Homo sapiens: one gene and its partners. The protein of the gene in region 6 purifies or fractionates together with the protein of the main gene of each other region. This does not show direct contact. Each region holds a gene or a part of one and is shown on either strand. Other genes may lie near its edges.

Region 1 (4,322 bases), on a different chromosome or scaffold from region 6:
AGTTCCAGGCCAAGAGCTAGAGGTTGAAGTCTTTGACAAGGACTTGGACAAGGATGATTTTCTGGGCAGGTGAGAGCATAGGAGTCTACGTGAAAAACAGGCTGGGGCTCTTTAGGCCATGGAGTCTGGCCTCCTTGGTTCTCACCATCTAGCTTTTGTCTTAATCTTTCTCTTCAACAGGTGTAAAGTGCGTCTCACCACAGTCTTAAACAGTGGCTTCCTTGATGAGGTGAGCATTGAATTAGAGTCAACAACCCCTCCTGATCCTGCCCAAGCTTCATTCTCAAAGTTCTCCTGTCTGCATATCCCCAAGTCTTCACCCTGCCTACTTCCACAGTGGCTGACCCTGGAGGATGTCCCATCTGGCCGCCTGCACTTGCGCCTGGAGCGTCTCACCCCCCGTCCCACTGCTGCTGAGTTAGAGGAGGTAGGGCAGGAGACTTGAGGAAGGAAGGGACCCAAGGTGGGGCAGGATGAGCTCTTCTCTTAGCGTTCAAGGCACATGCCAGAACCCAAGGTGTCAGTTACCACTCCCCAGCCCCGTGTGCCCCTCCACAGGTGCTGCAGGTGAATAGTTTGATCCAGACTCAGAAGAGTGCGGAGCTGGCTGCGGCCCTGCTATCCATCTATATGGAGCGGGCAGAGGACCTCCCGGTGAGATCCCGCTCCCCATGCCCCATAACTTCCTGGCCCTTCTTCCACCTTCCTCCGGTTTGGATGGTCCTGGAGTATTTAGAATAAGAAAAATGGCCCCTCTCTTTCTGAGGGTAGTGCAGGGGTGGGAAAAGTTGTCTGTTCAAGGCCACGGGTAGTGGCTGCCAAGTAATAATGGAGACATGGCTGCTGGCTGTGGATATAATTTGTGAGGGGGATCTGCCTAACTAGGTCCAAATTTAAGACTAACACAGTATTGTCTTTCTAGCTGCGAAAAGGCACCAAGCACCTCAGCCCTTATGCTACTCTCACTGTGGGAGATAGTTCTCATAAAACCAAGGTATGAAGAAATGCTGCAGGGTAAAAATGGGAGGGATAAGAGAAATAAGAGTATCAGCTACTGATCATAAGCCCTCATCTCCACCAGACTATTTCGCAAACTTCAGCCCCTGTCTGGGATGAGAGTGCCTCCTTTCTCATCAGGAAACCACACACTGAGAGCCTAGAGTTGCAGGTACTGTAAATTCATTCTTCAAATATTTAGCAGATTTCTGCCATGGCCAGGCAGGAAACCAGGCACAGAGCATTCAGAGATGAGATAAAAGGTTGACTTTTTTTTTTTTTTTTGAGACAGAGTCTTGCTCTGTCGCCCAGGCTGGAGTGCAGTGGTGCTATCTTGGCTCACTGCAAGCTCCGCCTCCTGGGTTCACACCATTCTCCTGCCTCAGCCTCCCAAGTAGCTGGGACTACAGGTGCCCGCCACCACACCTGGCTAATTTTTGCATTTTTTTTAGTAGAGATGGAGTTTCACCATGTTAGCCAGGCTGGTCTCGAACTCCTGACCTCAGGTGATCCGCCCACCTCGGCCTCCCAAAGTGCTGGAAATACAGGTGTGAGCCACCGCACCCGGCCAAAAGATTGACTTCTTATCTTTATGGAGCTCACACTCTGTTTTGGGAGAAAAATAACCAGATGAAACTTTCAGAATGATAACTGAGGTAAAAGGCACTGTGGGGAAGAAAGGAAGGGTTCAGGCTGGGGAAAGGCTGGAGATAGAAAGGCATCCTTAGATGACCCCTGAGCTTGAGGGTAGATTTTTTTTTTTTTTTTTTGAGACTAGAGTCTCACTCTTATTGCCCAGGCTAGAGTGCAGTGGCGCAATCTCAGCTCACTGCAACCTCAGCCTTCCAGGTTCAAGCGATTCTCCTGCCTCAGCCTCCCGCGTACCTGGGATTACATGCGCGTGCCACCATACCCCACCAATTTTTAGTAGAGACGGGGTTTTGCCATGTTGGCCAGGCTGGTCTTGAACTCCTGACCTCAGGTTATCCATCCACCTCAGCCTCCCAAAGTGCTGGGATTATAGGTGTGAGCCACTGCACCCGGCCTTTTTTTTTTTAGACAGGGTCTTACTCTGTCGCCCAGGCTGGAGTGCCGTGGTGCAATCAGGGCTCACTACAGCCTCAACTCTTGGGCTCTAGCAATCCTCCTACCTCAGCTGGGATAACAGGTGCACACTACCACACCTAGCTAATTTTTGTATTTTTTTGTGGAGATGAGGTTTTACCATGTCATCCAGGCTGGTCTCGAACTCCTGGACTCAAGCATTCTGCCCGCCTCGGCATCCCAAAGTGCTGGGATTACAAGCGTGAGAACCGCGCCCCAGCCTAAGGGTAGATTTACTGGTTCTTTCGGACCACGAAAAGAAGAGCAGGAAAACTCTTTAGGCTGAGAAAAAAAATGGAGGAGAGAGAAGGCATATTTATTATAGATCAGAGAGGCAGGCAGAGCAAGATCATAGGAGCTGTTGAATAGTATGCTAGAAATATGGATTTTATCCTAAGGCTTAGGGAAGCCTTTGTTTATTTTATTTATTATTTTTTTGAAACAGAGTCTTGCTCTGTTGCCCAGGCTGGAGTACAGTGATACGATCTCAGCTCACTGCAACCTCCCTCCTGGGTTCAATCGATTCTCCTGCCTCAGCCTCCCGAGTAGATGGGATTATAGGTGCCCGCCACCACGCCCAGCTAATTTTTGTATTTTTAAGAGAGACGGGGTTTCACCATGTTGGTCAGGCTGGTCTCTAAGTCCTGACCTCAAGTGATCCACTGCCTCGGCCTCCCAAAGTGCTGGAATTACAGGCGTCAGCCACCACACCCAGTCAGGGAAGCCTTTAATGAGAGGTCACATATCCAGATTTGCATTTTGGGAAGATCATAGGGATAAGAGGGTAAAGAATGGACTGGAGAGGGACAACACTGGGGGCAGGGAGATCAGTGAGGAGACTGTTAGAGCAGTCAAAGCAGGAAACGACTAAAGCCTGATGGGATTTGAAGATTGCTGTGATATGGAGCAGGTGGAGGAGCAAGGAACAGCCTAGACACTAACTCTGGGGTTTTTGGCACAGGGTGGCTAGATGGATAAGGGTGCCGTTGCTGACTTAGGGAGTGCACAGAGAGGGAATTTTGGAATTTGAGATCTCTGCAGGACATCCAAGAGAAGACATGCAGAAAACAAATCTATTGTCCATGAGGTGTTCCTCCCTTGCCCTCTTATTGGAACATCATGAGCAAGCAACCACTCATAAGTGTAGTCATGGGTGAGATCTCTTAGGCAGCGTGGAGAGTGAGGAGACAAAAGATGGCCATGAGCCATCTTACAGGTGTGAACCACTGTGCCCGGCTGAAATTAATAGAATTTAAAATAATGTAACTTAATGCTAGCAGAGTAGAAAGGAGGTACAAATGAGCTCAGTTCTTCATCTTTTATAGCAGGGAATCAATAGATACAAGCATATTAGAATTCCGTGAGAACAAAGAAAACAGGAGGGTTTTAAAGGTTGTTACATTTGGAATATGGCAATAGGAGTAGGATGGGCAAGAAACATTTACTTTTAGTTCTGTTTTTACTGTTGTTTTCTGTATGCTGTAGGTATTACTGGTATAATTTCTGAAAGCTAGGTTGGGCGCGGTGGCTCACGCCTGTAATCCCAGCACTTTGGGAGGCCAAGGCGGGCAGATCACAAGGTCAGGAGATCGAGACCATCCTGGCTAACACGGTGAAACCCTGTCTCTATTAAAAATACAAAAAATTAGCCGGGTGTGGTGGCGGACACCTGTAGTCCCAGCTACTTGGGAGGCTGAGGCAGGAGAATGGCGTGAACCCAGGAGGCGGAGCTTGCAGTGAGCTGAGATTGCGCCACTGCACTCCAGCCTGGGCAACAGAGCGAGACTCCGTCTCAAAAATAATAATAATAATTTCTGAAAGTTTATGAGGTAAAGATGGTCCACTCTACTCTGGTTAAGAAAGGAAGGACAGGCCAGACACAGTGGCTCACACCTGTAATCCTAGCAATTTGGGAGGCTGAGGTGGGTGGATCACCTGAGGTTGGGAGTTTGAGACCAGCCTGACCAACATGGAGAAACCCCAGCTCTACTAAAAATACAAAATTGGCTGGGCGTGGTGGCAGGTGCCTGTAATCCCAGCTACTCAGGAGGTTGAGGCAGGAGAATCGCTTGAACCTGGGAGGCGGAGGTTGCGGTGAGACCAGATCACGCCATGCACTCCAGCCTGGGCAACAAGAGCGAAACTCTGTCTCAAAAAAAAAAAAAAGGAAGGAAGGACAGAGGGAGGGACTAGCAACTGTTACCATGGCTTCCCTGCCTTTC
Region 2 (4,368 bases), on a different chromosome or scaffold from region 6:
AGTGTTAAGCCTCTTAAGATTTCAGAGTGTATGTGTTACTACAGTATAGCCTGTCTTACTCTAACTAATATAAAGGGCATCTACCAAAAAACTACAGCAACTCTCCTATTCAGTGGTGAGAAGTTAGCATCATTTTCTGTAAAATCAGCAATAAGAACAAGGATGACTGCTATTTCTTCTTGTATTTAGCAGTGCAGTAAAACAAGTAAGGATTGGAATGGAAGAAACAACAGTAATAATTTGCAGATAAATTATTTACATGTTGGCTGGGCACAGTGGCTCACACCTGTAATCCCAGCACTTTTGGGAGGCCGAAGCAGACAGATCACTTGAGGTCAGGAGTTCGAGACAAGCCTAGCCAACATGGTAAAACCCTGTTTCCACTAAAAATACAAAAAAAATTAGCCGGGCATGGTGGTGCGTGCCTGTAATCCCAGTTATTTGGGAGGCTGAGGCAGGAGAATTGCTTGAACCTGGGAGGCAGGGGTTGCAGTGAGCCAAGATTGCACCACTGCACTACAGCCTGGGTGACAGAGCAAGACTCTGTCTAAAAAAGAAAAAATTATTTACATGTAAACTTTCTATGTATAAATAAATAAGTTGCTTATAAGAAGTGTATATTTAAAATCAGTTGCATTCCTGTCTGCCAGCAACAAAAAGTTAGAAAACGTAATTTTTAAAAAGGTGCCATTCACAATTTCATTAAAAAGTATTAACATATGGTACCTAGGAATAAATTTAGCAAAAGAAGTATAAAATTTTTATAGAGAAAATTACTAAAGCTTATTGATAGACCTTAAAGAAGATCTTAATACTTGGAGAGTAATGAAAACTCAGTAATATATTACTTCTCCCCAAGTTGATCTCTAAGAGTGAAAAAAATTTTGGTCAAAATCCCGGGAGGGTTTTTAAGGAATTCCTCAGGCTGATTCCTAAGTATGTGTAGAAGAGGAAAGAGCCAAGGATAGCAAAACCTCTTAAAGGAGAAGAATAAAGTGGAGACATTGACCTAGCAGATATCAAGATTTGTGAAGTTTTAGTAATTAAGACAAAGTGGTATTGGCCAGGGACAGACAAATTGTCTAACAGAACAGTAATGAGTCTCCAGAAATAGACCCACTCGTTAATGAAAATTGGACACGTGACATAGGAGCTTTCATATTAATGTAAAAAGGATGATCTTTCCAGTAAATGGTGCTAGGGCAATTGTTCAATCGGGGATAAATGATATGTACTTAACCAGTTTTTATAATAAGACTTCAGTTGAGTTTTTTATTTTCTTAATTAAATTTTTTATTTTTATTTTTTATTTTTTTGAGATGGAGTCTCGCTCTGTCGCCCAGGCTGGAGTGCAGTGGCGCAGTCTTGGCTCACTGCGAGCTCTGCCTCCCGGGTTCAGGCCATTCTCCCGCCTCGGCCTCCTGAGTAGCTGGGCCTACAGGTGCCCACCACCATGCCCGGCTAATTTTTTGTATTTTTTAGTAGAGACGGGTTTCACCATGTTAGCCAGGATGGTCTCGATTTCCTGACCTTGTGATCCGCCCACCTCGGCCTCCCAAAGTGCTGGGATTACAGGTGTGAGCCATCGTGCCTGGCCTATTTTCTCAATTAAATTTTTAAAAATGTTTATTTAATTTTTTTTAGAGCCAGAGTCTTGCTATGCTGCCCAGGCTGGGATACAGTGGTTATTCACAGGCACAGTAATAGTGCATACAGCCTCAAACTTCTGGGCTAAAGTGATCCTCCAGCTTCAGCCTCCTAGGTAGCTCGGACCATAGGCGCATGCCAATATACCTGGCCTGGTTGAATTTTATGTCATTTTAAAATACTATATATAGGTAACCTACTTTAATGATATACTTTTATTTATTTATTTATTTGAGACGGAGTTTCGCTCTTGTTGCCCAGGCTGGAGTGCAATGGTGCGATCTCGGCTTACCGCAACCTCTGTGTCCTGAGTTCAAGTGATTCTGCTGCATCAGCCTGCCGAGTAGCTGGGATTACAGGCATGTGCCACCACGCCTGACTAATTTTATATTTTTAGTAGAGATGGGGTTTCTCCATGTTGGTCAGGCTGATCTCGAACTCCTGACCTCAGGTGATCCACCTGCCTTGGCCTCCCAAAGTGCTGGGATTACAGGCGTGAGCCACTGCACTCGGCCAATGATATACTTTTAAAAAGTAAGCCCAAGAAAATGACAACTTAGGAAAAATATTTCCAACATGTATAAGAGACAAATTGTTTAGATCCTAATTTATGAAGAACTCTTAAAAATTAATAAGAAAAAAGATGGACCATTATCATTTTCCTTTCCTGATTAACTGATATTTTAAAACATTTTCTCACCCAGCAGCTACAGTGACATTGTGCGGATTTATAAAAGGTAAAAGGCTTGTTTGTCTTTTGTACTTTAAGCATGTCCCAGGTGGATGTGGATTCAGGAATTGAAAACATGGAGGTTGATGAAAATGATCGAAGAGAAAAGCGGAGCCTCAGTGATAAGGTTGGTAAGCGATGAAGCCCTTGGTACAGGTAATAGAAATAAACACATTTCATGTCTTGTATCTGTAGAGTCTGTTAGATTGGGGCCACCCGAAATCAGGAAGTCCTAGGCAGGTGATTATTTTTATTCTTTTGAGGAAAAATGAATAACCTAGATTACCCTTATTCATGAAAGTGTAACTCAGTCCTTTGATCTGATAATATCCATCTGTTTTTGGTTCAGGGCCATGATTTTATCAGTAAATTTAGGTTGTAATAGGAACTAATTTAGAGCAAATTAGAATTCTTTCTGTTGGTCTTTTGCTTTTTTTTTTTTTTTTTTTTTTTTTTTTGAGACAGAGTCTCGCTCTGTCGCCCAGGCTGGAGTGCAGTGGTGCGATCTCGGCTCACTGCAAGCTCCGCCTCCCAGGTTCACACCATTCTCCTGCCTCAGCTTCCCAAGTAGCTGGGACTACAGGCGCCCGCCACCACGCCCAGCTAATTTTTTGTATTTTTAGTAGAGATGGGTTTTCACCGTGTTAGCCAGGATGGTCTTGATCTATTGACCTTATGATCCACCTGCCTTGGCTTCCCAAAGTGTGGGATTACAGGCGTGAGCCACTGCGCCTGGCCTGGTCTTTTGCTTTTAAGCAAGTAGATCATCACATCTTTAGCAGTATTCTGAGGAAAATGACTGGGAATTGAAGCAAGAATATGTAGAATCTAGTCGCAAGTAGAAGGTTTTGGAAAACATGAAGCCTTTATATTTGAATATCACCTGAGCTTAGTGCTCTGCATTTAGGGTGTGTGTGTGTGTGTGTGTGTGTGTATTAATATAGATAATTACATCACTTTCTGTTTAGTAAATTATTAGGAATCCTTTAGCAACACATGTTAATGATTATTGGAAGTTGCACTGTAAACAAAAATAAAGACAAACAAAGGAAAAAATAAGAAGTTGCACTGTAGCCTCCTAGTGGTGCAGTGCTTTATTTTGTATAGTTCTTTAATGTTTACAAAATTCTTTTTTATATGCTGTTTTATCTGTGGTGGTATGTAATGAGAAATGTTACAATTTTGAAAAATTCCTGGAGGAAAATTGGTCATGCACCTGGAGTGTTAACCTGGTCCTATGGAATTCAGAAAAGTAAATAGATAGGATATGTACATCCTCTGTCACATATTTTTCCTTGGTGACTTTTGATAATGACTTTGCTCTTTTTTTTTTTTTTTTTTTTTTTTTTTTTTTTTTTTTGAGACAGGGCCTCACTCTGTTGCCCAGGCTGGAGTGCAATGGCGTGATCTTGGTTCACCACAACCTCCGCCTCCTGGGTTCAAGCGATTCTCCTGCCTCAGCCTCCCAAGTAGCTCCGAGTAGCCAGGCCCGCAACCGCGCCTGGCTAATTTTTGTATTTTTAGTAGAGACAGGGTTTCACCATGTTGGCCAGGCTGGTCTTGAGCTCCTGACCTCAGGTGATCCACTGGCCTCGGCCTTCCAGAATGCTGGGATTACAGGTGTGAGCCACCACGCCCGGCCATCTTTGCTCTTTTATGCTCCCCATAGATTGTATTGTAAGCTCATGAGACTTAGATGTTGTAACTTTGATGTTATAGGAATAGGCTTACTTTTCCCCTAATCAGTGGGTGAATGGTTTCATGCATTTTTAAAATATCATCACTAATAATGAATTAAATCAGAATAACGTATTCCTATTGAAACACCTAACTCATACCTCTTATTTGAAATTAACCTGCAAATCTTCTTCTTCACCAGGAGCCTTCCTCGGGCCCTGAAGTGTCTGAAGAGCAGGCCTTACAGCTGGTCTGTAAGATCTTCCGTGTCTCTTGGAAGGACCGGGACAGAGATGTCATCTTTCTTTCTTCTC
Region 3 (4,368 bases), on a different chromosome or scaffold from region 6:
GACAGGTGAGAGAGAGGAAGGGGAAGTCAGGGTAGAGCCGGGGGGAATCAAAGAGGCAGAAACTCCTTTTACCCAACAAGGGGAAGAAAGCCTCTCAGTCCCTCAAGCATAGGCCGGGGTGGGGGGGGTCTCTGTCTCCCAGACCCTTGGTCTAGTTCACTCTGTCTCCTGGTGTGGCAGCCCTGAGCCTGGCCTCTGGCTGGCTGAACTGCCCCCGCACCAGCACTCCAGCACTCCCTCCCTTCCCACCCAGCCAAGGGCCGGGCCATCTTGCTGCCCATGGACCTGGATGCCCACATCAGCTCGATGCTCAGCAGTGGAGCCAGCTGTGCAGCTGCCGCCCAGCGGAACGCCTCCAGCTACAAGGCAACCACGCGGGCCTTCCCCCGCGTCACCCCCACCGCCAACCAGTGGGACTACAAGAACATCATTGAGAAGCTGCAGGTGGGTGTGGGGCTGCCTGGCATCTGCCTCGGGAGCTGCTTGGTTGAGTCAGCAGCTCCCCTACTTTGGAGGGGCAAGTTCTCGGGGAGTGTTTCTTCCTGTCCTGCCCACACTTCCAGGAAGGGGCTGGTTGGCTTCTCTACACTCTGGGGCTGCTAAGGGCCGACCCAGCAGCAAGGGACTGGGGAACCTCCTTCCAGAGGAAGCCTGGAGAACCCAGAGGCCTGCTAGTGGGGTTGGAGCTCATGAGGGGGTCGGGACCACCCCTCACTCCTGCAGCGCCCTCCTGTCTATGCAGCACATTTCTGTGCGCTGTCTCGTTGGCCTGTAGAGGGGGTGTGGTGGATTATTTTCCCCACGTGGCAGGAGACTGAGGCTCAGAGAGGCTAAGGGGTTTGCCCAAGGTCACACAGAGCTGGGAGAGAAGCCAGGCTTGGCAGCTCCCAGCCAGGGCTCTGAGCAGACAGACATCACGCTGTGTTCAGGGTGTCTCTGTGGGTGTGGGCCCCTCAGACAGAGGCAGGGCAATCTGTGGGGCTGTTTGGCGTTTGGGTCGGAGGAATGGCAGTCACACCCGGGTCATTTCTTGGGCCTGGCAATGACTCTGCCCTGCCCACCCCAGGACATCATCACAGCCCTGGAGGAGCGGCTGAAGCCCCTGGTACAGGCTGAGCTGTCCGTGCTGGTGGATGTCCTGCACTGGCCTGAGCTGCTCTTCCTGGAGGGCAGTGAGGCCTACCAGCGCTGCGAGAGTGGGGGCTTCCTGTCCAAGTGAGCGAGACACTGGGGCATGGGGGCAGCAGGGGTGCAGCGGCAGGGGACAGAGAAGGGCCCGGTGGGGACTAGACAGGCTCACTGGGTCAGAGGGCCTGGGGGTGTTCCTGCCTGGGATGGGGTGGGGAAGTAGCTGGAGGGAGGCAGTGTGGGGCTGCCCTGAGCTGCCTCCTTGGCCGGCTCAGGCTGATCCAGCACACCAAGGACCTCATGGAGTCGGAGGAGAAGCTGTGCATCAAGGTGCTGCGGACCCTGCAGCAGATGCTGCTCAAGAAGACCAAGTACGGGGACCGGGTGAGTGCCCTGGTGGGGCAAGTGCTGGGTGGGCCAGTCAGGAGTACCCAGGGGCTCAGGGTCAAGCCCGTCAGGCCAGTGGTCAGTGGTGGGCTGTACCCACAATGGGGCCTCACTCCCATCCTCCCCCAGGGCAACCAGCTGCGCAAGATGCTGCTGCAAAACTACCTCCAGAACCGGAAGTCCACCTCGCGGGGGGACCTTCCCGACCCCATAGGCACTGGTCAGTATCACCTTCCCCTGCCCCCGGGCCCTCCCTTCCACTCTCCTGTCACACCAGCTCTCCCTCAACCGAGTCCCGCCTCCAGGCCTGGACCCAGACTGGTCGGCAATCGCAGCCACCCAGTGCCGGCTGGACAAGGAGGGGGCCACCAAGTTGGTATGCGACCTCATCACCAGCACCAAGAACGAGAAGATCTTCCAGGAGAGCATCGGCCTGGCCATCCACCTGCTGGATGGTGGCAACACAGAGATCCAGGTGTGGGGGGCCTGGGGCCTGGACATGCCCTCCTTTGCCTCCCTCCCTTTTTGGAGGAGGTGGGCCTTGAGTTGGGCACTGAAGGCCGAGGAGGGTGTGAAAGAGGAGAGGCCTGAGCAGTGGCTGAGAGGTGAGAAGAGTGGGCATGATGGGGGCAGGGTGGTGAGGAGACGGGCTCAGGCCTGGCTGGGGCAGAGGGGTATGCGGGGGTGATGAAAGGACCACGTGACACAGGAGCAGATATGGGGCATGGAGCCGCCCATGGGTGGCCATGGATGCTAGCCACCAGCACCCAGGCCTGCAGCCAGGCCCCTGCAGCCCCAGCGGCCCCAGCAGTGTGGTGTGCCTGCCCCACGCCCTGAGTAGGAGCAGGGCCCAGTGCTGAGGTTGTTCCCTGGCCACTGTCCACCTCCAGAAATCCTTCCACAACCTGATGATGAGTGACAAGAAGTCAGAGCGCTTCTTCAAGGTGCTGCACGACCGCATGAAGCGGGCCCAGCAGGAGACCAAGTCCACGGTGGCAGTCAACATGAATGACCTGGGCAGCCAGCCACATGAGGACCGCGAGCCAGTCGACCCCACCACCAAAGGTCAGGGGTCTGAGGCAGAGGCACGGCGTGACGGGGATCCCAGGATAAGATGTGCAGGGGGGTGGCCAAGGGGGTGGGCAGCTCCAGCCTCACCAGGTCTCGCCCACAGGCCGCGTGGCCTCCTTCTCGATACCTGGCTCCTCATCCCGCTACTCGCTGGGCCCCAGCCTGCGCCGGGGGCACGAGGTGAGCGAACGTGTGCAGAGCAGTGAGATGGGCACATCCGTGCTCATCATGCAGCCCATCCTGCGCTTTCTGCAGCTGCTGTGTGAGAACCACAACCGGGACCTGCAGGTGAGTGCCTCGCCACACACCTGCCCCTTCCCCCGCTGGCCAGCCGGCATGCAGACTAGGCAGTGTGGCTGGTGTCCCTCTATGGCAGGTGTGCCCTGCCCTGGGCACTGCTGCTTTGTGGCTGGTGGTTCCCCTACCCCTGCAGCACACAAGATCGTGCTTCCCAGGCCAGCCTCCCTCTCCGTGCTGTAGCTGTGCTGTGCCCAACCCTTCTGTGCCCCGCAGAACTTCCTGCGCTGTCAGAACAACAAAACCAACTACAACTTGGTATGCGAGACGCTGCAGTTCCTGGACATCATGTGCGGCAGCACCACGGGCGGCCTGGGGCTGCTGGGGCTCTACATCAATGAGGACAACGTGGGCCTCGTCATCCAGACCTTGGAGACCCTCACTGAGTACTGCCAGGGCCCCTGCCATGAGAACCAGGTGAGCTGTCCTGGTGGCATAAGTGGCAGCCAGGGTGGCAGTGTGGACATGTGGGTAGATGGAGCCAGCTGGGGCAGGGAGAGAGGCTGAGGTCTCTGGAGCTGCCACTATTCTGAGAGGGCCTGGGCCCTGTGTCCCCCACTGCCTCCTGCCAGACTTGCATTGTGACTCACGAGTCCAATGGCATAGACATCATCACCGCACTGATCCTCAATGACATCAGCCCCCTGTGCAAGTACCGCATGGATCTGGTGCTGCAGCTCAAGGTGGGGCCCAGTGGCAGGTGTGTGAGTGCTGGGTGTGCATGTGATGTGCATGCATGTATGTGTGACTTGTGTGTCAAGTGTACATAGTGGTGTGTAATGTGGGTGTTAGCATTGTGTGATGGGGCATCATCTGGATGCACAAGTGTGTGGTGTGTGCAGGGTGTGTGTGTAATATACGCATGTTTAAGCATGCTGGAACATACACTCACTCTGGATGCAAATATATTCTGGTTTAGCTGAGGACTTGCTATGTGTGTGTCTGCTGTCTGGGTAGCTGAGTGTTTGCCACAGCGGGGGTGAAGGCAAGCCTATGGGTGGGCTGGCTGTGCAGGATGCTTCTCATTAAGCCGGGGGGAGGGAGGATGGGAAGGTCATGGCACCTGACCTTTTGTTGGATGGGAGAGCTGTTATGGAGAGGAATGAGGGAGAAGTTGTCAGGGGCATGGTGTCCTGAGACTGTGGCCTGCCTCCCTCTGCCCCTCCACCCAGGACAATGCCTCCAAGCTGCTCCTGGCTCTGATGGAGAGCCGGCATGACAGTGAAAATGCTGAGCGAATCCTCATCAGCCTGCGGCCCCAGGAGCTGGTGAGGCTGGGCAGGTGGGCAGGCGGGCGGAACCAGGTGGAGTGTGTTGGGATGGGGATGAGGGCCCGGCTGGCCCTACCGCCCTAGGAAGAGAGCATTGGAACAGGCACTGCCCCTCCAGGTGGACGTCATCAAGAAGGCCTACCTGCAGGAGGAAGAGCGTGAGAACTCGGAGGTGAGCCCACGTGAAGTGGGCCATAACATCTATATCCTGGCG
Region 4 (4,368 bases), on a different chromosome or scaffold from region 6:
TGTATATGTGTATTTTTAGTAGCGATGGGGTTTTGCCATGTTGGCCAGACTGGTCTTGAACTCTTGACCTCAAGTGATTCGCTTGCCTCGGCCTCCCAAAGTGCTAGGATTACAGGCATGAGCCACAGTGTCTGGCTAGCTACCGTGCCCAGTCGCGAGCATGTTATTGTTTATATTTTTCTGGACATTCAGGTAGTGAGAGACTAGACTTTGCAAAAATCAGCAGTTTGAAAACTGAATTTATAATAAAGATAGCTGCTTGACTTCTGTATTTGGCCCTTGTAAAATAACATTAATTTCTTCTTTCTTTGGTTCCTAGAAAGTAGTAGATGAAGTTGTTCTAAATTGAAAGTAGTAGATGAAGTCTAGCATGGTGCTGTTTCTCATAGTACCCAATATAATGGTTTAGTGTGGATACATTTGGCAGGCAATAATTGAGTTTTGTTAGTTCAGGAAAAAAAAACAAAGGCTATATGTAATCTTTCTCCATATTGGGATATTATAGGTGGAACGAGAACTTTGTTCAGCCACAGCTGAATTTGAGGATTTCGTCTTACAGTTTATGGACAGGTGAGCTTGTAACCCACACCAACGTTTAGCTGAAATTCTAGAAAATGACTCTTCTATCCCAGAAAGTTTAGTTTATTTCTGCATTATAACCTTTATTTAGCTACTACTGGTGCTCCTGAAGTTATAAAAGGATAATCGATTTGTGAACCACGTAGAAATTAAGTAGCTATCACTTGAATAATTAGGACAATAGAGAGTTACCTGATGACCACCAAAAATGTCAAACCAGATTTTAGTTGCTGAAATTATGCTTTGTTTGGATTATTTAGATGTTTTGGACTTATAGAAAGTAGCACATTGGAGCAAACAAGAGAAGAGACAGAAACTGAGAAAATGACACACTTGGAGAGTTTGGTCGAATTAGGTCTGTCTTCTACGTTTAGTACAATCCTCACCCAATGTTCCAAAGAAATATTTATGGTAAGAACATTGCTGCAAAAAATAAACTTCCAGCTTTTAAGTTTCATTTGATGTTTTAAAATTGACTTCAAGTTACTTTGTGTATATCATGCAGTTTATCATTTACATTCATACTAAAGTTTTAAAGAAATGTACAGTTGCTCATTATTTGCAAATTTCGTATTTGCAAATTTACCTGTTTGCTCTAACTATTTGCAACCTGAGAATCAAGCTTTTGCGACTGACAAAAATTCAGTTACTTAAATTTGATCTCACATATGCCATGTGTTCTCAGCTGAGAGCAAACGAGGCACTCTGCCGTCTTATATCCAGCTCCACTTAAACAACTGTCCCCTTTGCGATCTATTTAATGCCACTTTTTTACATTTTTTTGCTTCTTATTGGTGATTCTGCTGTTTAAAAATGTCAAAAATGGCTCCCAAGAGTTTATTGTTTAAAGTGGTTGAGGGTTCCTAAGCATAAGAGAGTTGTGCTGTGCCTAATGGAAAAAACACTGTGCTAGGTAAGCGTCAACAGGCATGAGTTATGTTGCTGTTGACTGCGGATTAAATGTTAGTGAATCAACAATATGTATTAAATAAGTTGTCTGTAAACAGAATCACACTTAGGATTATGTATTGATCAGTTGATGAAAATGTTGTCACCATAGGTTCACAGGAACATAATCCTGTATTTCCCCTGGGAGCAATGGTTCAGTATTTGCTAGTTCAGTGGTCACAGCAAATTTATAGAACATGACTACCATGAACAACAAGAAACAACTGTCGCAGGGGGGATAGCATTAGGAGAGATACCTAATGTAAGTGACGAGTTAATGGGTGCAGCACAGGAACATGGCACATGTATACATATGTAACAAACCTGCATGTTGTGCACATGTACCCTAGAACTTAAAGTATAATAAATAAAAAAAAGAAACAACTGTATTTTTTAATTTTACAATTAAAAACAGTTACTCAGCTGAGTTTTAGAAATTGCTTATGACATCACTCCCATGATAGAAATTAAATCCTAAGACTAACTGATGGATTAGAAGTAGTTATCTTCATAAGACATTCAGTAAGCATTCACTAATTCAATATTGGTTGGTACCTATTATTTGTAATGTGGTACCTATTATCTGTAGCCTTTAAGACTACACTTTATTTTCATTTCTGTTTCTTCTCCCATCATCTGTAATTATCACTGTTAAATATGTTAATCCTAGAAGCCAAACTGCCTTATAGCTGTGTGAAATAAATACTATGATTATGTTAGTATAAAGAAATGAACACAAATCATCTCTTATTTAACCAAAAAGAGTTGTTTATACTTTTCAGTATTGTTAACCCAGGTATAGAACTCATTCTTCCATTGAGCAAGTAAATTAAAGTTTTGTGACATGACTGTAAAATAAACAGACTGCTTCAGTTCTTTTAGGGTAAGGATAGATGTCTAGTTTGTAGTTGTCAGGATGACAAATTGTATTAGGTATTCCAAAAAATTCCCTTTGTTATATTCAATTAGCCAGAAAGACAATTAAATTGCATTTGCTTCCACCAGGTATAATTTTATGTGTAGGGTTTCTGTGGCAAGTGAAATCTTGTACCTCAATTTTTTTTTTTTTTTTTTTTTTTTTTTTTTTTGTTAACTCTGTCACCTGGGCTGGAGTGCAGTGTCGCGATCTCGGCTCACTGCAACCTCCACCTCCCGGGTTCAAGCAATTCGCATGCCTCAGCCTCCCGAGCAGCTGGGACTACAGGCATGCGCCACCATGCCTGGTCAATTTTTGCATTTTTAGTGGAGACAGGGTTTCGCCATGTTGGCCAGGCTGGTCTTGAGCTCCTGATGTCAAGTGATGCTCCTGCCTCAGCCTCCCAAAGTGCTAAAATTACAGGTGTGAGCCACCACATCCAGCCAGTACCTAAAATATTTTGTTCAAGTTAGGATCGTGGGCAAAGATTGTTCTTAGACCTGAATGTAACATCATTAAACAAATTCTTATAAAATCAGATGGTTAAAAATTGCCTATGGGCTTATTTTTGGAATTGTCTAAATATATTTATCATTTTCTTTTATGTTCTGTAAGATGTTTAATTTTCTTAAAAAATGCTCATTAAACATTTTCATATCTTAACAGGTGGCCCTTCAGAAGGTTTTTAATTTTTCTACTTCACATATATTTGAAACAAGAGTAGCAGGTCGCATGGTGGCAGACATGTGCCGCGCTGCTGTAAAGGTGAGTTTATTTTTTTGAACTGATGTATTAATGACTCAACAATCAACTAGTTTATATGGTTAATTATTAGAGGTGCTTCTATGCTTAAAATGCATAGTTCTTTCAGTAGCTGCTTATTTACAGCCTTTTACTGCCACTGAAAATATAATCTTGTATATATTTGCCTTTCAAAAAAGCCTTACTTATACAAATACATTTTCAGTGCTGCCCAGAAGAATCTTTGAAGCTCTTTGTTCCCCACTGCTGCAGTGTTATAACTCAGCTTACAATGAGTAAGTCATAAGGTCATTATTCTCTCTTTACAATTTTGGATAAGTTTTTTTCTTGGTTTCTAAAACTCTGTTAATGACAACAGATTCCTTTAGCTTCACAATATTTTGATTGGCAATTTGGGGAAAATTTGTCTCCAAAAAAGATATCATCCAGGTTGGCAGTAGCTTAAAAATGTTACTTTATTAATATTCTTATACAACCACCATTCAGAGGTTACCTTCAAAAATATCAGTTATTTTGTGAGATATAGAGGGGCAGAAGTCTTGGTTGGTGTGTTTATTTTCTTGAAAATTCTGTTTCTACCTCCTTTTGGAACAAGCTCAGCTTCATGAAGAAGAAATAAAAAGTCTTCCTAAAAGAGGTTTTCCTCAGCTATTGGAAATATTAAATAGAAGTATTTTAAAATGCTATATTTAGTTGAATGCATAGGTTTTTCCCCCTAATAGTATTTTGCTGTTTTTAGATGATGATGTATTAAATGATGAAGAGCTAGACAAGGAATTACTATGGAATCTTCAACTTTTGTCTGAGGTATTGTAAATCTTTGGAATAAGAAACATGACTGTGAAAACACTGACTTGCTTTTAGGATTTAGCTCTTTCTGACAAAATGACTTTAAAACATATGAAAAGTCAGAGTTTTGGAAATTTGATGAGGCTTCAGAAGATCAGAATATGTCATACTCTTATTGTCAAAGGAGTGGTGTAGTTGATCACTGCATGTTCAGCCATCTACTTAGTTTTACCAGTTAATTCTAATATGGGTAACTCATTAATTGAAAAAGTTGATCAGATTTGGGAATTTTTTTGGTCTACACTTTAAATTTGGCCATCAATCAAACTTCAGTTTTCTTTTCTTTTCTTTTCTTTTCTTTTTTCTTCTTTTTG
Region 5 (4,368 bases), on a different chromosome or scaffold from region 6:
CCTCACCACCTAACATGGAAGAAGACCATCTCACAGGGTTGTCATGAGAATTGGAGATGAAATGCCCTATTACTTCTTAGCCAGACTATTGTAGGTGTTTCCAGGGTCAAAGGAGAAAAATTACAACAATTTAGTTTTAAGATCTTAATTGGCTTTCTAGAATTGGGCAACACTTCATCTCATAAAATAGAGTATCCTGTGAGCTAAGCAGAGGAGCTTGGCTTTTTAGAGAGAAATGGGCTGAAGAAACCAGAAACAAAGAACTAAAAGCAGATGAGTCGTTTCAAAGGGACTTTTCTTTTAAGGCAGGGGCAGGAAGACAGAACAATACAAAAATAACATGGTTAGCATCAGGTGACTTCAGGTTATCTGAACCTGAGCACGGTGACTGCATTTTGGTTTGTAGTCTAGTATGTTGAGGCCCTATTGTGCAGGAGCTCAATCTGCAACAATGGCCGCCTATAATTTTTATTTGACACCAGATTGGATTCCTGCCTCTAATTTAGCCTTCCCACTTCTGCCAGTTTGTTCTTTCTAACAACATAGCTCTGATCATGTCATATCCTTCCTCAAAACCTTTATGGCATTTTCATTAACTATTAGAATTCCTGTCCTAGTTTCGAGGCCTCTTCACCACCTGGCCCCATCCTACATTTTTGGTTCTATCCTCTAACATTTCCTTTTATACCCCCTGACCCTGGCGTTCCAGCCACATTGAACTTGCTGTCTTGAGGAGATGTCCTTGTCTCAGTGGCATTGCTCATACTTGGAATTGTTCTTTTCCACACCTCTCAGGCTCCAAATCTTCATCTTTTGAGTTCCTGTTCAAATGCTCCCATCTCTGTTGCAGGTCCCTGCAACCCCTGACTGTAACTCTCCTTAACTTCCATGATTCTTTCTCGGAGCTCTTGTCACATTCATTGCTTTATGCTTTTTGTTTTTTGGGTACATGATGTATTTAACTTCATGTTCTGAGTCCTAGGGAGTTCTTCCTAAGCACTTAGCAAATATGTGTTGTAGGCAATTAGTAGCTATATATGATCAGTAGACTCCACGGGGGAATAATAAGCGGATTAAGAGTTGACAGGTCCCTAGGGACTGAGAGTGCGGGGAAAGCACAGGCGTAAAGCAGGTGTCTTAACACTGGCTTTAGAAGATCTAGAAAACTAGTAACCAAGAGCTTTTAACATGGTTCTTGTTAAGATGTGAAGAGGTAAGATAACTAATTTGAGTGGCTATTGTATGCCAGTCACCGGTCTAGGTATTTTATGTATATTCACTCATTTGAACTCTGGCCAGATGACATTCTTCCCTTCTGTAATATTACCCCTTGACCTCTTTTTTTTTTTTTTTTTTTTTTTTTTTGGAGATGGAGTTTTCGCTTTTGTTGCCCAGGCTAGAGTGCAACGATGCAATCTCGGCTCACGGTAACCTCCGCCTCCCGGGTTCAAGCAATTCTCCTGCCTCAGCTTCCGGAGTAGCTGGGATTACAGGCATGCACCACCATGCCCGGCTAATTTTGTATTTTTAGTGGAGACGGGGTTTCTTCATGTTGGTCAGGCTCATCTTAAACTCCTGACTTATGGTGATCTGCCCGCCTTGGCCTCCCAAAGTGCTAGGATTACAGGCATGAGCCACTGTGCCCAGCCCCGTTGACTTCTTGTTACACTTAGAATAAAATACAAAGTCAGGTGGTGGCTCGCGCATTTAATCCCAGGACTTCGGGAGGCCGGGGCAGGAGGATCACTTGAGCCTGAGAGTTCAAGACCAGTCTGGGCAACATAGTGACACACCCCATCTCTAATTAAAAAAAACAAAACAAGACTCCATAAGTAGCCCTACGGGACCCCAGACTCACACTGTACGACTTCCTCACCTTTCCATCTTCTCTGACCAGCTCCTTACCTCTGCTCCCTCCTCTAAAGCTTTTTGCCCATGAATCCCAAATTTATGTTTTTTCATTTCAGCTTTAAAACCCTACCCTGTTATGATAACAATAATGGAGTACATTGCCCTTGTGTGGTTCTTCATACTTTTTTTTTTTTTTTTGAGATGGAGTTTCGCTCTTGTTGCCCAGGCTGGAGTGCAATGGTGCCATCTCAGCTCACTGCCATCTCCGCCCCCCACTGGGTTCAAGCGATTCTCCTGCCTTGGCCTCCGGAGCAGCTGGGATTACAGGCACACACTAACATGTCCAGCTAATTTTTCTATTTTTAGCAGAGATGGGGTTTCACCACGTTGGCCAAACTGGTCTCAAACTCCTGACCTCAGGTGATCCATCTGCCTCGGCCTCCTAAAGTGCTAGGATTACAGGCCACCATGCCCAGCTCTTCATAATTTTTCAAAGCACATTCTTCTTATTTCGTTTGATCCTATTTCAGTCCACAATTTTCCACATACCTTTTCTCAAAAATAAGAGTATAGAAGAGTTGGGTGCAGTGGCTCACACCTGTAATCCCAGCACTTTGGGAGTCTGAGGCAGGCGGATCACTTGAGACCAGCCTGGCTAATATGGTGAAACGCTGTCTCTAATAAAAATACAAAAAATTAGCCAGGTGTGGTGGCAGGTGTCTGTAATCGCAGCTACAGGCTCCTACTGAGGCGGGAGAATCACTTGAACCTGGGTGGTGGAGGTTGCGGTGAGCCGAGCTTGCGCCACTGCACTCCAGCCTGGGCGACAGTGCGAAACTCCATCTCAAAAAAAAAAAAAAAAAAGTATAGAGGGATTGAAATGCCAAGAAAACTTGACAGTTTATCAAATAACATCTTTGCCATAAATCTTAATGCCAGTTGTGGGACTGGCCTGTGGCTCCTTTAAGCCTTGGAGTTGTAACAGAAAGTTTTCTTCAGATAGTTTTGTTAATCACACTGTTTAAAATGTGCTATGAAATTTCTTGGATCTTTGGAGAGAAACAAGATACTGTTATAATAATTACTGTGGAGATGTCACTGGAAAGGGGATCCAGACCCCAAGAGAGGGTTCTTGGACCTCGTGCAAGAAATAATTCAGATTGAGTCCATAGAGTAAAGTGAGTGTAAGTTTATTAAGTAAAGAAACAAAAGAATGGTTACTCCATAGGCAGAGCAGTAGCTTGGACTGCTCGACTGATAATACTATAATTATTTATTCATTATATGCTAAACAAGGGGTGGATTATTCATGAGTTTTCCAGGAAAGGGGTGGGCAATTCCCGGAAATGAGAGTTCCTCCCCATTTCAGGCCATATAGGGTAACTACCTGACGTTGCCATGGCATTTGTAAATTGTCATGGCGCTGGTGGGAGTGTCTTTTAGCATGCATGCTAATGTATTATAACTAGTGCATAATGAGAAATAAGGACAGCCAGAGCTCACTTTTGTCACCATCTTGGTTTTGATGGGTTTTGGCCGGCGTCTTTACCATCACCTGTTTTATCGGCATGGTCTTTGCGACCTGTACCTTGCACCGACCTCCTATCTCATCCTGTGACTTAGAAGGCCTAACCTCCTGGAAGTGCAGCCCAGTGGGTCTTAGCCACATTTTACCAAGCCCCTGTTCATAATGGAGTCGCTTTGGTTCAGATGCCTTTGACGGAGAAGGTAACTTTTCACTATATATTCTTTGTACAGTTCAGGTGTTTGGTTAAACACATGCTTGTAGTATCTGTTTAAATTAGTTATATGTATATGTATACTCTGGGAAGTGGCTCTTCTCATTATTACAATTTTTTTCGAAAAGCAATCAGCTTTTATTTGACAATTTGGAAAATACAGGAAGAAAAAAAGTTATTCCGGCCAGGCACGGTGCCTCACGCCTATAATCCTAGCACTTTGGGAGGCCGAGGCGGGTGGATCACGAGATCAGGAGTTCAAGACCAGCCTGACCAAGACGGTGAAACCCCATCTCTACTAAAAATACAAAAATTAGCCGGGTGTGGTGGCAGGCACTTGTAACCCCAGCTACTCGAGAGGCTGAGGCAGGAGAATCGCTTGAACCTGGCAGGTGGAGGTTGTAGTGAGCCGAGATCGTGCCACTACACTCCAGCCTGGGTGACAGAGTGAGACTCCGTCTCAAAAAAAAAAGAAAAAAAGTTACTTCGAATCCTACAATAATCCTGAAATAACCAATTGGGATTGTCATTTAAAAATGAACTTTTTTTTTTCTTCCCCTGAGACAGGGTCTCACTCTTTCACCCAGGCTGGAGGGCAGTGGCACGATCTCAGCTCACTGGAACCTCTGCCTCCCTGGTTGAAGTGATTCTCCTGCCTCAGCCTCCTGAATAGCTGGGATTACAGGCATCCACCACCATGCCCAACTAATTTGCATTTTAAGAAATAGGGTTTCACCATGTTGGCCAGGCTGGTCTCGAACTCCTAATCTCAAGTAAT
Region 6 (4,368 bases):
ACATACATCCAATGCTATAATTGAAGTACAGCAAGAAGAAAGCTAGCAAAAATAGTTAATCAATGGTAACATAATCCATGCAATGTTGATTTAGAAAAATAATTTAACCTTAACTAAGACTTTTCTGAAGGGAGCAAAAAAATTCTGAATATTAAAAAACACCCCTTCTAATATTTTTTTCTCCTTTTTTTAAAAGAGGAGTTTGTGTTTTTGGATTTATCTTTCTGACTTACTGATTTTTAAGTACTCCTCTGGTGGTGTGTTGAAAAACAGATCCTAAAAGTTTGCATCCAGAAGCTGACACACACAGAAGATACTTGTTGAGAATTTAAGCCCATTTTCACCTTGATGAATTTCTTCATGCTTGGATGAATCTTGGCAGACAGCAATTTTCTTGAATAAAGAAAGATGTAGTTGGTATAGAGATGCAGTCATATGAGGAGTAGAAGATGAAGCTTGAGATGGTTTTTGGTTTTTTTTCCCAATAGGGTAACAGATCTGCACTGACTTACTCACTTTTATCCATCTAGTTTCCTTTGTGCCCAGTTCCACTTCTCAGACATGACTCAAGAGATGCATAATTTACTTTAATTAAATGACCAAGCTCCCTCCTTGTTGTAGCTCATAAACTGTGAATATTGGTTACACCTGTTAACATCAGCCGCAGAACAAGTCTGCCCGTCAAAAATGTTATTATTTCATTGGGTATTTAAATGCCACAGAATTTGAGGAACTATAATTAAACATGACAATGTTGATTTTTATATTTGGATTTATAGGAGAGAGAAAAGAACTTTAATTCACTAATAAAAATATAATCTGCTCATATCCTCGAAGAATTCTTTAAAAATTCATTATGTATTTAGCACATAGCATTTAAATACATGTATTTTGGGGGCAGGGAGAATCTGTTATTTATTTACAAACATTTTTAGAGATTCTAAAGGTAAAAATTACAACTGTGATTAGAAGGCTCATTCAGAATTTATTGACACACAACTCTGCTTTCTAAGATGGTTCAATGTTTAGAGGCTGGAGGACTGGGCAAAAATAGTAATCGTAATGAATAGCTCAACTCTAGTTTCATGCACGTGCAATTTATTAATGGGGCCTAAAGTTGTAAATTTGTGATGAATTAACAAATAAGTGACATGAGAGGAAATGATAGGGGAGGAGAGAGGAAAGCATTGGGTTATTTCAGAGAAAAGTAGGCAGAGAAAGGCAGTTTAGGAGGTGACACAAGAGGGAAGCCTAAGGAGAGAGAACTGGATGGAGCTTCCCAGGTGATGACAGGGTTGAACTCCAGGGCTATACCCAGCTGAGCAGGGAGAGCTTTGCCTCTTCAGGAGACTGGAAGTTGGGGAAGACTCCAACAGGCTTGTGGTCAGAAGCTCAGGAGACTGGGAAGGAAAAGTGAATTTCTGAGGAGTCCTAGTTCATTTCATTAATTTGTTCAATTCTTTAACGTATGTTTATTATGGACCTACTATGTGCCAGACGCTGTGCTAGCTGTTAGGGACACAATGATGAACAAAATAGGCATAGTTTTTTACCCCATGAGAGTTAGAGGGTGGTGGGGAGAGTCATTAATCAAATGGCACAAACACATGTAAAATTACCATAAAGCGGGTGATACAGAAAGGCGACTGGTGTTAGGATAGCTAAAAAAGAGGGATTTCACCTGGTCAGGTGGGTCAGGGAAAGCTTCTTAGAGAAAGAGGGACTTGGGCTGATGAATGAAAGGTGAATATGCCAGGCAAAGAAGAGAGGGAGGAGGCTTCTAGGCAGAAGGAACTTCCTGTGCAATGATTCTCTGAGAATGAAAGATTAACAAAGGCCAATGTAAGTAGAACAGAGTGAGCCAGGAGGCGCAGAGTGAGAGAGAGGCCAGGGCAGGGCCATACGTGGAGCCAAAACATACGGGGCTTTGTAGGTCATGCTGAAGAGTTTACTTTTGTCCTCAGAGCAATGGGAAGTAATTGCACAGCTTTGAGCCAGGAAGGGAAAGACAGGTACTAGGCCCCATCCTCAGTGGAATTAGGTAGGTTTGGGGTGGGACCTGAGAAGTACATTTCTAAGGTTCTTAGGTGTCAGTGCCGCTACTTCAGGACCACAGTCTGAGAACCTGGCTTTAATTAATTGATATTAGAGTGAGTGAGAAGCTGGGGGAAATTTTAGGAAGGGTGCATGCATGCATAGGAGTGTTGGGATTAAAATGAAGCCTATTGATTAAATAGTCTCAGGCATAAATTGGAGAAACTATTTGTAAATAAGCCTTTCTTATAATTACCATTTGTAATAGGTATCAAAGACAAAGCAGAATGAGGCTCTTGTACGAATGCTACTTGATGCTGGCGTCGAAGTTAATGCTACAGATTGTGTAAGTTTATACTTTTAGCCATTTTGAAAAAATATTCAAAATGGTATTTGTAGGTAGCGTATTTGTCATCTGTACAGTTGCTTTATTTTCCTAGACAATTTTACATTTAGTTTTCTTTTATTTTCTCCTTTTTTTTCCCACTGACAGGCAACCTTGAGGTTATTTATATTCTGCTGAACTCATGGGAATAATACCTCTATTGATTATAAAGCATTTTTAAAATAATTGGCTTTAATGTTGTTGAGACGTTAAGGAAAACTAAGGCTCCGATAACAAAATACCAGCCATAATAGTTAAGAAGCTGGAGTGAGAATGCCCATGAGTAAACTCTGGGCTTGCCACTTTTTACTTCTATGAGTTTGAGCAAGTTGTAAACTTATTTTACTTTCAGTGTCCTCATCGGTAAAATGGGGATATGGATAATACTTATCTCATTGGGCTTGTTCATGTAAAGCACTTAGCACATGCTCAGAATGTAGTAAGTGCTCATTGAATGGCAACAGCTGCCACTGCAGCCAAAATCCCAACCCACTGATGAGAGGCCCCGTGTGCAAACTACAGATAAATAAGACAAAGGTCAAAGAAAAATCCCACTGATGGTAAGAGCAGTGATAACAACAGTAGCAGCATCCGCTCACTTCTTCCTGTTTATGAGCATAAGGTGTTGTTTTCACTTTCACCTCTGTGCTCTTGCACTCATCTTTCTTTCTCAATGATCACAGAAAGACAAAAGTTTATTTCTATGGTGTTTTGCTTATGGTGATTGAATAAAATTTTGGATTCCCAGTTCCTTATTGAAAAAGTAGGCAAGTGGAAATTTGATTCCAAAATACTAACATTCTATTTGTGATGCCTAACATATTTTACGTGTGTGCACATCTGTGTGTATTACCATTGTTTTATGATAGAGACCATGGCCCCATTCCTGTTTCTATCAATTATTTACATCATTTCGGTTTTGCCTATGCTGGTATCATGTTTAAATGCAGGCAGTTGTGTGTGTGTGTGTGTGTGTGTGTGTGTGTGAGAGAGAGAGAGAGAGAGAGAGAGAGCAAAAGAAAATAACTTTATGAAATTTATATTCCCTTTTATTTCAAATAGAACTTTTGGATAAATTTGTATTGACAGTTACTGTGCATTACCATTTCTTTAGATAGCTTTGAAATATATTAAGTAAGAGATTATTAAAGATGAAGTTAAAAGTTTGTTGAAGGTTTTTCTTGGTCTTTTCATTTAAATTCAATAGATTTAATATTCCTGCCTGTGACCAAAATTTCTCTAGGATATTTTCTCAGCAATTTATGTGTATTTCTCTCTCTAGATAGAGATATTGCATTCCTTCAGCTAGGCACAGTGACACTAGCCTGTAGTCCCAGCTACTTGGAAGGCTGAGATGGGAGGATCCCTTGAACTCAGGAGTTTGAGACACATGCAGGTACACACACAGACACCACTTCTAATACCAAAATTTTTTCAAAAACTATCTGAGTATTAAAATCTACTTTCTAGGTAAGACAGTGTTTTGTATTTTTGGATAATTAGACTCTATTTCACATGACAAAATTCAGAGCCAGAACTTCCATTTGTCATGCCACCACTTAATAAAAATAAATAATTGCAACATGATCTCCTATAATTTTAGAGGTGTTTCTAGGGAATGGGATCCAGAGCTAAACCTGTCTTGATAGCCAAAGGTACTATTTCTTCACTCACCAGCACCATGGTTGCTTGGCTACTTTTCCAAAGGCCAAATTTTGGACACTAATGCCCTAGCTATAATTTTTTTGACCTGTAGTGTTTTAAATTAGTACCAACAGAGTAGATGCACTAGCTTATAACACATAATATAAGCTATAACAAATCACGTTTGGGAAATGTCTCTGTAGAACTGCACTGATCTTGCAGGTGTCCTGCAGCAAGAGCACCCGACTTCTTCAGTAGGAATCATCACCAAAACCATAGAGGATAATGTTTATGTAAAGGGCCAT
Region 7 (4,368 bases), on a different chromosome or scaffold from region 6:
TCAGCCTCCCGAGTAGCTGGGATTACAGGCACCCGCCACCAAGCCCAGCTAATTTTTTGTATTTTTAGTAGAGACAGGGTTTCACCATGTTGGCCAGGATGGTCTCGAACTCCTGACCTCAGGTGATCCGCCCACCTCTGCCTCCCAAAGTGCTGGGATCTCAGGCGTGAGCCACCGCACCCGGCCTGTGTATCTTTTCTATAATGCCATTTCTGGTAATTGGATATTGGACATAAAAACAGTTGTAATGTTCTTAAAGTGTTTAAAGACAAAAGCTTGAGAGCTCAATATGTAGATTTAAATAAAAATGGACAGTTGGAAAAAAAGAAACTTAAGCATTTGAAAACACAACCTGCCATTACTATTAAAATAATTCACATATTTATATTCTTGGAATAATCAGCTTTAGACTTAATAACATTCGTTAACCTAAGCAGTCATAATCAAAGTTCTGCAATTCCTTGATTTCCAGAATTTGTGGATGAAAACCTTCATTAGAAGCTTAATGGATTATTTTTTCTGAATCTCTCAGTAAGCTATTTATGGGGTGGGTGTGGGTGAGCATCAAGCTTATTGGATCTTGATTACTCTTTTTCATTGAAGAATGAAAACAAATGGGAACTTTTCTTGACAGATAATATGAATTTATAGGCCACCAAAATATTACAGATAAATACACAAGCCATACAGATAAAAGAATGATAGTAAACATATATTATTCAAATATAGAAACAACCTTGCCAAAATGAACAAAGTCAGCTTTTCTTTTTTTTTTTTTTTTTTTTTTTGAGATGGAGTCTCGCTCTATGCCCAGGCTGGAGTGCGGTGGCACAATCTCGGCTCACTGCAACCTCCGTCTCCTCGGGTTCAAGCGATTCTCCTGCCTCAGCCTCTCAAGTAAGTGGGATTACAGGTGTGTGCCACCACACCCGGCTAATTTTTGTATTTTTAGTAGAGATGGAGTTTCACCATGTTAGCCAGGATGGTCTCGATCTCCTGACCGATCCACCCGCCTCGGCCTCCCAAAGTGCTGGGATTACAGGCATGAGCCACTGCACCTGGCCCAAAGTCTGCTTTTCTAATAAAAGTCTGCCTACATTCTGGGGAAGCAACTTTCCTTCCTCTCCGTATACCCAGAATGACAGAGAACAGTCGAAACTATTTGAGCACCTTCCATCTACCCCAAGACAAAAGCATGTATGTGACTATCATACTCACATTTTAGTTCCATTCTGGTGAGCCACAGAATACATACCTGCCTGAATGATTAAGCGCAAACTGAATTTGTGTAACTAGGATATTTCTAATGTACAGGTAATCTGACTAATCAACAATTAACTTGTCAAGTACTGATACAAGACTGTGCTAGAAGTGGTAGTGTAAGATACAGTTCTTTCTGTCAAAATCTCTTTGGAAGAGAAAATAACCTCTTTGTTTTAACGTGGCCCCACTCCAATCCATTCTCCACACAGCTGCTAGAGTGAACTTTCTAAAATCTCATTGCATCATTTCCCAGTTTAAATTCCTTCAGTTTCTTACTGTTATCTGCAAGAGTAAAATTATTGAACACAGCATTCCAAGTTCTTCGTGATCTAATGCCTGCAACTTCTCAAACTTCATCCCTGGGGCCACTACCCTTGCTCCCCACCAAACACACACAGGCAGTTTATCTTGCTTGGTATTTCTACCCCTCCTTGTCTCCCTCCCTTCCTTCTCTTGCCCAGTTAACTTAGTTCAGTTGTGTCCCTTATAGGCAGCCTCCTTCACCCCTCTCCTCTGATCTTGAATGCAAGTTAAAGAATTTGATAATTGTGAGTCACAGATATTTCCACAGGGAAGAAACATGAAAAGTGCAGGAGTTTTGTGAAAATACATTTGACAGATTTGGTGGATTTAAAGTAGGAACAGACCTAGCATGGTGGCTCTTTCCTGTAATCCCAGCACTTTGAGAGGCCGAGACAGGAGAATCGCCTGAGGCCAGGAGTTCAAGGCTGCAGTGAGCTCTGAATGCACCACTGCACGCCAGCCTGGGCAACAGAGTGACCCTGTCTCAAAAAAAAAAAAAAAAGAGGCCGGGCGCAGTGGCTCACGCCTGTAATCCCAGCACTTTGGGAGGCTGAGGCGGGTGGATCATCTGAGGTCGGGAGTTTGAGACTAGCCTGATCAACATGGAGAAACCCTGTCTCTACTAAAAGTACAGAAAAAATAAGCTGGGCGTGGTGGCGCATGCCTGTAATCCCAGCTACTTGGGAGGCTGAGGCAGGAGAATCACTTGAACCCGGGAAGTGGAGGTTGCGGTGAGCCGAGATCGTGCCATTGCACTCCAGCCTGGGCAACAAGAGTGAAAATCTGTCTCAAAAAAAAAAAAAGAAAAAGAAAAGTTGGGTTAGCAGTTATGAATCAGTTGGGAGGGGTTAACCCTGGCACGTGAGAGGCAGGGGAAATATAATGACTTGAAAGTCATTACAAAGAAAACCTGTAGTAAGTATTTTAAAGCAAAAAATAATTTGTGAGTTCTATAAATTCACCTTTTTTTATATTATTGGGAGTATAATGTGATATTTGCCATGGAAGTTATAAAGTCTTACAAGTCTTAAAGTCTCATGAGATATCTCAGCAAATAATTGGCAGGAATGCCAAAGTAAAGACACAGTTACAGAAATGAACAGTGTATTCATTCATTCATTCATGAGACAGCGTCTGTCTCTGTTGCCCAGGCTGGAGTGCATCTTGGCTCACTGCAACCTCTGCCCCCCGGGCTCAAGCCATTCTCTCACCTCAGCCTCCTGAGTAGTTGGGACTACAGGTGTACGCCACCACACCCAGCTAATTTTTGTATTTTTTTTGTACAGATGGGGTTTTGCCTTTTTGCCCAGGCTGGTCTCAAATTCCTGGACTCAAGTGATCTGCCCACCTTGACCTCCCAAAGTGCTGGGATTACAGGCATGAGCCACCGTGCCTGGCTGAGAAATGAACAGATTTAGATACTTCCAGGATATTTCTATTTAATACTTCACCAGGATGCTAAATTACCAGTTTATAATAACAAATTCTACAATTACATATTCTAATACCTCAAACAAAATATGACATGAACACCTGTGATATAAAAGGGCCATTTAATGGCTCACGCCTAAAGCGCTGGCACTTTGGGAGCCCGAGGCGGGTAGAACTCTTGAGGCCAGGAGTTTGAGGCCAGCCTGGCCAACATGGCAAAACCCCATCTCTACTAAAAATACAAAAATTAGTCAGCATGGTGGCACACACCTGTAGTCCAGCTACTCGGAAGGCTGAGGCACAAGAATCGCTTGATCCTGAGAGGAAGAGGTTTCAGTGAGCCAAGATCGCACCGCTGCACTTCAGCCTGGGCGACAGAGCAAGACTCCATCTCAATAAAAAAAGTGGGAGGGGGACATTTAAAATGTGTTTTTGTCATTACCTAGAGCAGTGATTTGAGGATTGCCCCCCAAATGTCATAAATTGGTATATCAGAAGATAGCTCTTGAATTGCTTAGGGGGCTCCTGAAAAATAAGGACTCTAGTGGCTGGTATATCGTGTGAGTGATAACAGCAATGGATTAGTCAGTCGCACACTGGCATGTGGTATGTGTGGCCCACTCTTGCAGGAGAGCTGTTCTGTCCCTGGCATATTCAACGTTTTAAGAACTCATAGCCAGTACTTTCTAGCATATACCTGATACACCAAGTTGTTTCTCATGGTTGATTATGTGAGCTAACTGGTCACAAAATATAGCACTGTACAACTATTGGTTAAATTTTCAATAGTATAAAACTTTATTAGACTTTCATCTGCTTTGAAACAATTTTTCACCATAGTGTTCCCTTTTTTTTTTTCCTTTTTGAGACAGAGTCTTGCTTTCTGTCACCCAGCCTGGAGTGCAGTGGCCCAACCTCAGCTAACTGCAACTTCTGTCTCCAGGGCTCAAGCAATCCACCCACCTCAGCTTCCCAAGTAGCTGGGACTACAGGCCCATGCCACCATGCCCAGCTAATTTTTAAATTTTTAAAATTTTGTAGAGACGAGATCTCACTATATTGCCCAGGCTGGTCTCAAACTCTTGGACTCGAGTGATCCACCCACCTCAGCCTCCCCAAGTGCTAGGATTGCTAGTGTGAGCCACCCTGCCCAGCCAACTATAGTTTTCTAAACCAACAAATTCTACTTATTTTCCAGCCTAAGCAAATGCTTACTTGGGCTGTTGTGATTTCCATCAATATCTGGTTGTTCTTCTTGGAAAGTAAGAATAGAAGATAAAATATAGTTTTAAAAAATATGTAAGTCCAAGGAAATGAATCGTATGTTTTATGCCAACACAGACAGACAAAAAACAAAAAAAATTCCTTCAC

The links.
Region 1: the proteins of ANKRD22 (region 6) and ESYT1 purify together in Homo sapiens (co-immunoprecipitation; 2 studies listed by BioGRID and IntAct, with this or other methods). This does not show direct contact.
Region 2: the proteins of ANKRD22 (region 6) and UBE4B purify together in Homo sapiens (co-immunoprecipitation; one large-scale study listed by IntAct). This does not show direct contact.
Region 3: the proteins of ANKRD22 (region 6) and ITPR3 purify together in Homo sapiens (co-immunoprecipitation; one large-scale study listed by IntAct). This does not show direct contact.
Region 4: the proteins of ANKRD22 (region 6) and PSME4 purify together in Homo sapiens (co-immunoprecipitation; one large-scale study listed by IntAct). This does not show direct contact.
Region 5: the proteins of ANKRD22 (region 6) and LAPTM4B purify together in Homo sapiens (co-immunoprecipitation; 2 studies listed by BioGRID and IntAct, with this or other methods). This does not show direct contact.
Region 7: the proteins of ANKRD22 (region 6) and PKP2 purify together in Homo sapiens (co-immunoprecipitation; one large-scale study listed by IntAct). This does not show direct contact.

Annotation. Positions count from the first base shown.
Region 1 is NC_000012.12:56,137,846-56,142,167, forward strand, and holds part of ESYT1 (extended synaptotagmin-1), read left to right. Parts: coding exon 1-69; intron 70-180; coding exon 181-229; intron 230-337; coding exon 338-427; intron 428-558; coding exon 559-654; intron 655-922; coding exon 923-994; intron 995-1,081; coding exon 1,082-1,168; intron 1,169-4,322. UniProt on the Homo sapiens protein: Binds calcium (via the C2 domains) and translocates to sites of contact between the endoplasmic reticulum and the cell membrane in response to increased cytosolic calcium levels.
Region 2 is NC_000001.11:10,098,692-10,103,059, forward strand, and holds part of UBE4B (ubiquitin conjugation factor E4 B), read left to right. Parts: intron 1-2,416; coding exon 2,417-2,504; exon of another isoform or gene 2,505-2,515; coding exon of another isoform or gene 2,516-2,533; intron 2,534-4,256; coding exon 4,257-4,368. UniProt on the Homo sapiens protein: Ubiquitin-protein ligase that probably functions as an E3 ligase in conjunction with specific E1 and E2 ligases. May also function as an E4 ligase mediating the assembly of polyubiquitin chains on substrates ubiquitinated by another E3 ubiquitin ligase.
Region 3 is NC_000006.12:33,682,954-33,687,321, forward strand, and holds part of ITPR3 (inositol 1,4,5-trisphosphate-gated calcium channel ITPR3), read left to right. Parts: intron 1-253; coding exon 254-444; intron 445-1,066; coding exon 1,067-1,215; intron 1,216-1,403; coding exon 1,404-1,512; intron 1,513-1,644; coding exon 1,645-1,735; intron 1,736-1,820; coding exon 1,821-1,990; intron 1,991-2,405; coding exon 2,406-2,580; intron 2,581-2,689; coding exon 2,690-2,874; intron 2,875-3,099; coding exon 3,100-3,300; intron 3,301-3,455; coding exon 3,456-3,566; intron 3,567-4,055; coding exon 4,056-4,151; intron 4,152-4,272; coding exon 4,273-4,368.
Region 4 is NC_000002.12:53,922,161-53,926,528, reverse strand, and holds part of PSME4 (proteasome activator complex subunit 4), read left to right. Parts: intron 1-505; coding exon 506-570; intron 571-839; coding exon 840-990; intron 991-3,109; coding exon 3,110-3,208; intron 3,209-3,410; coding exon 3,411-3,480; intron 3,481-3,944; coding exon 3,945-4,012; intron 4,013-4,368. UniProt on the Homo sapiens protein: Associated component of the proteasome that specifically recognizes acetylated histones and promotes ATP- and ubiquitin-independent degradation of core histones during spermatogenesis and DNA damage response.
Region 5 is NC_000008.11:97,799,147-97,803,514, forward strand, and holds part of LAPTM4B (lysosomal-associated transmembrane protein 4B), read left to right. Parts: intron 1-4,368. UniProt on the Homo sapiens protein: Required for optimal lysosomal function. Blocks EGF-stimulated EGFR intraluminal sorting and degradation.
Region 6 is NC_000010.11:88,824,050-88,828,417, reverse strand, and holds part of ANKRD22 (ankyrin repeat domain-containing protein 22), read left to right. Parts: intron 1-2,302; coding exon 2,303-2,380; intron 2,381-4,368.
Region 7 is NC_000012.12:32,886,495-32,890,862, reverse strand, and holds part of PKP2 (plakophilin-2), read left to right. Parts: intron 1-4,368. UniProt on the Homo sapiens protein: A component of desmosome cell-cell junctions which are required for positive regulation of cellular adhesion.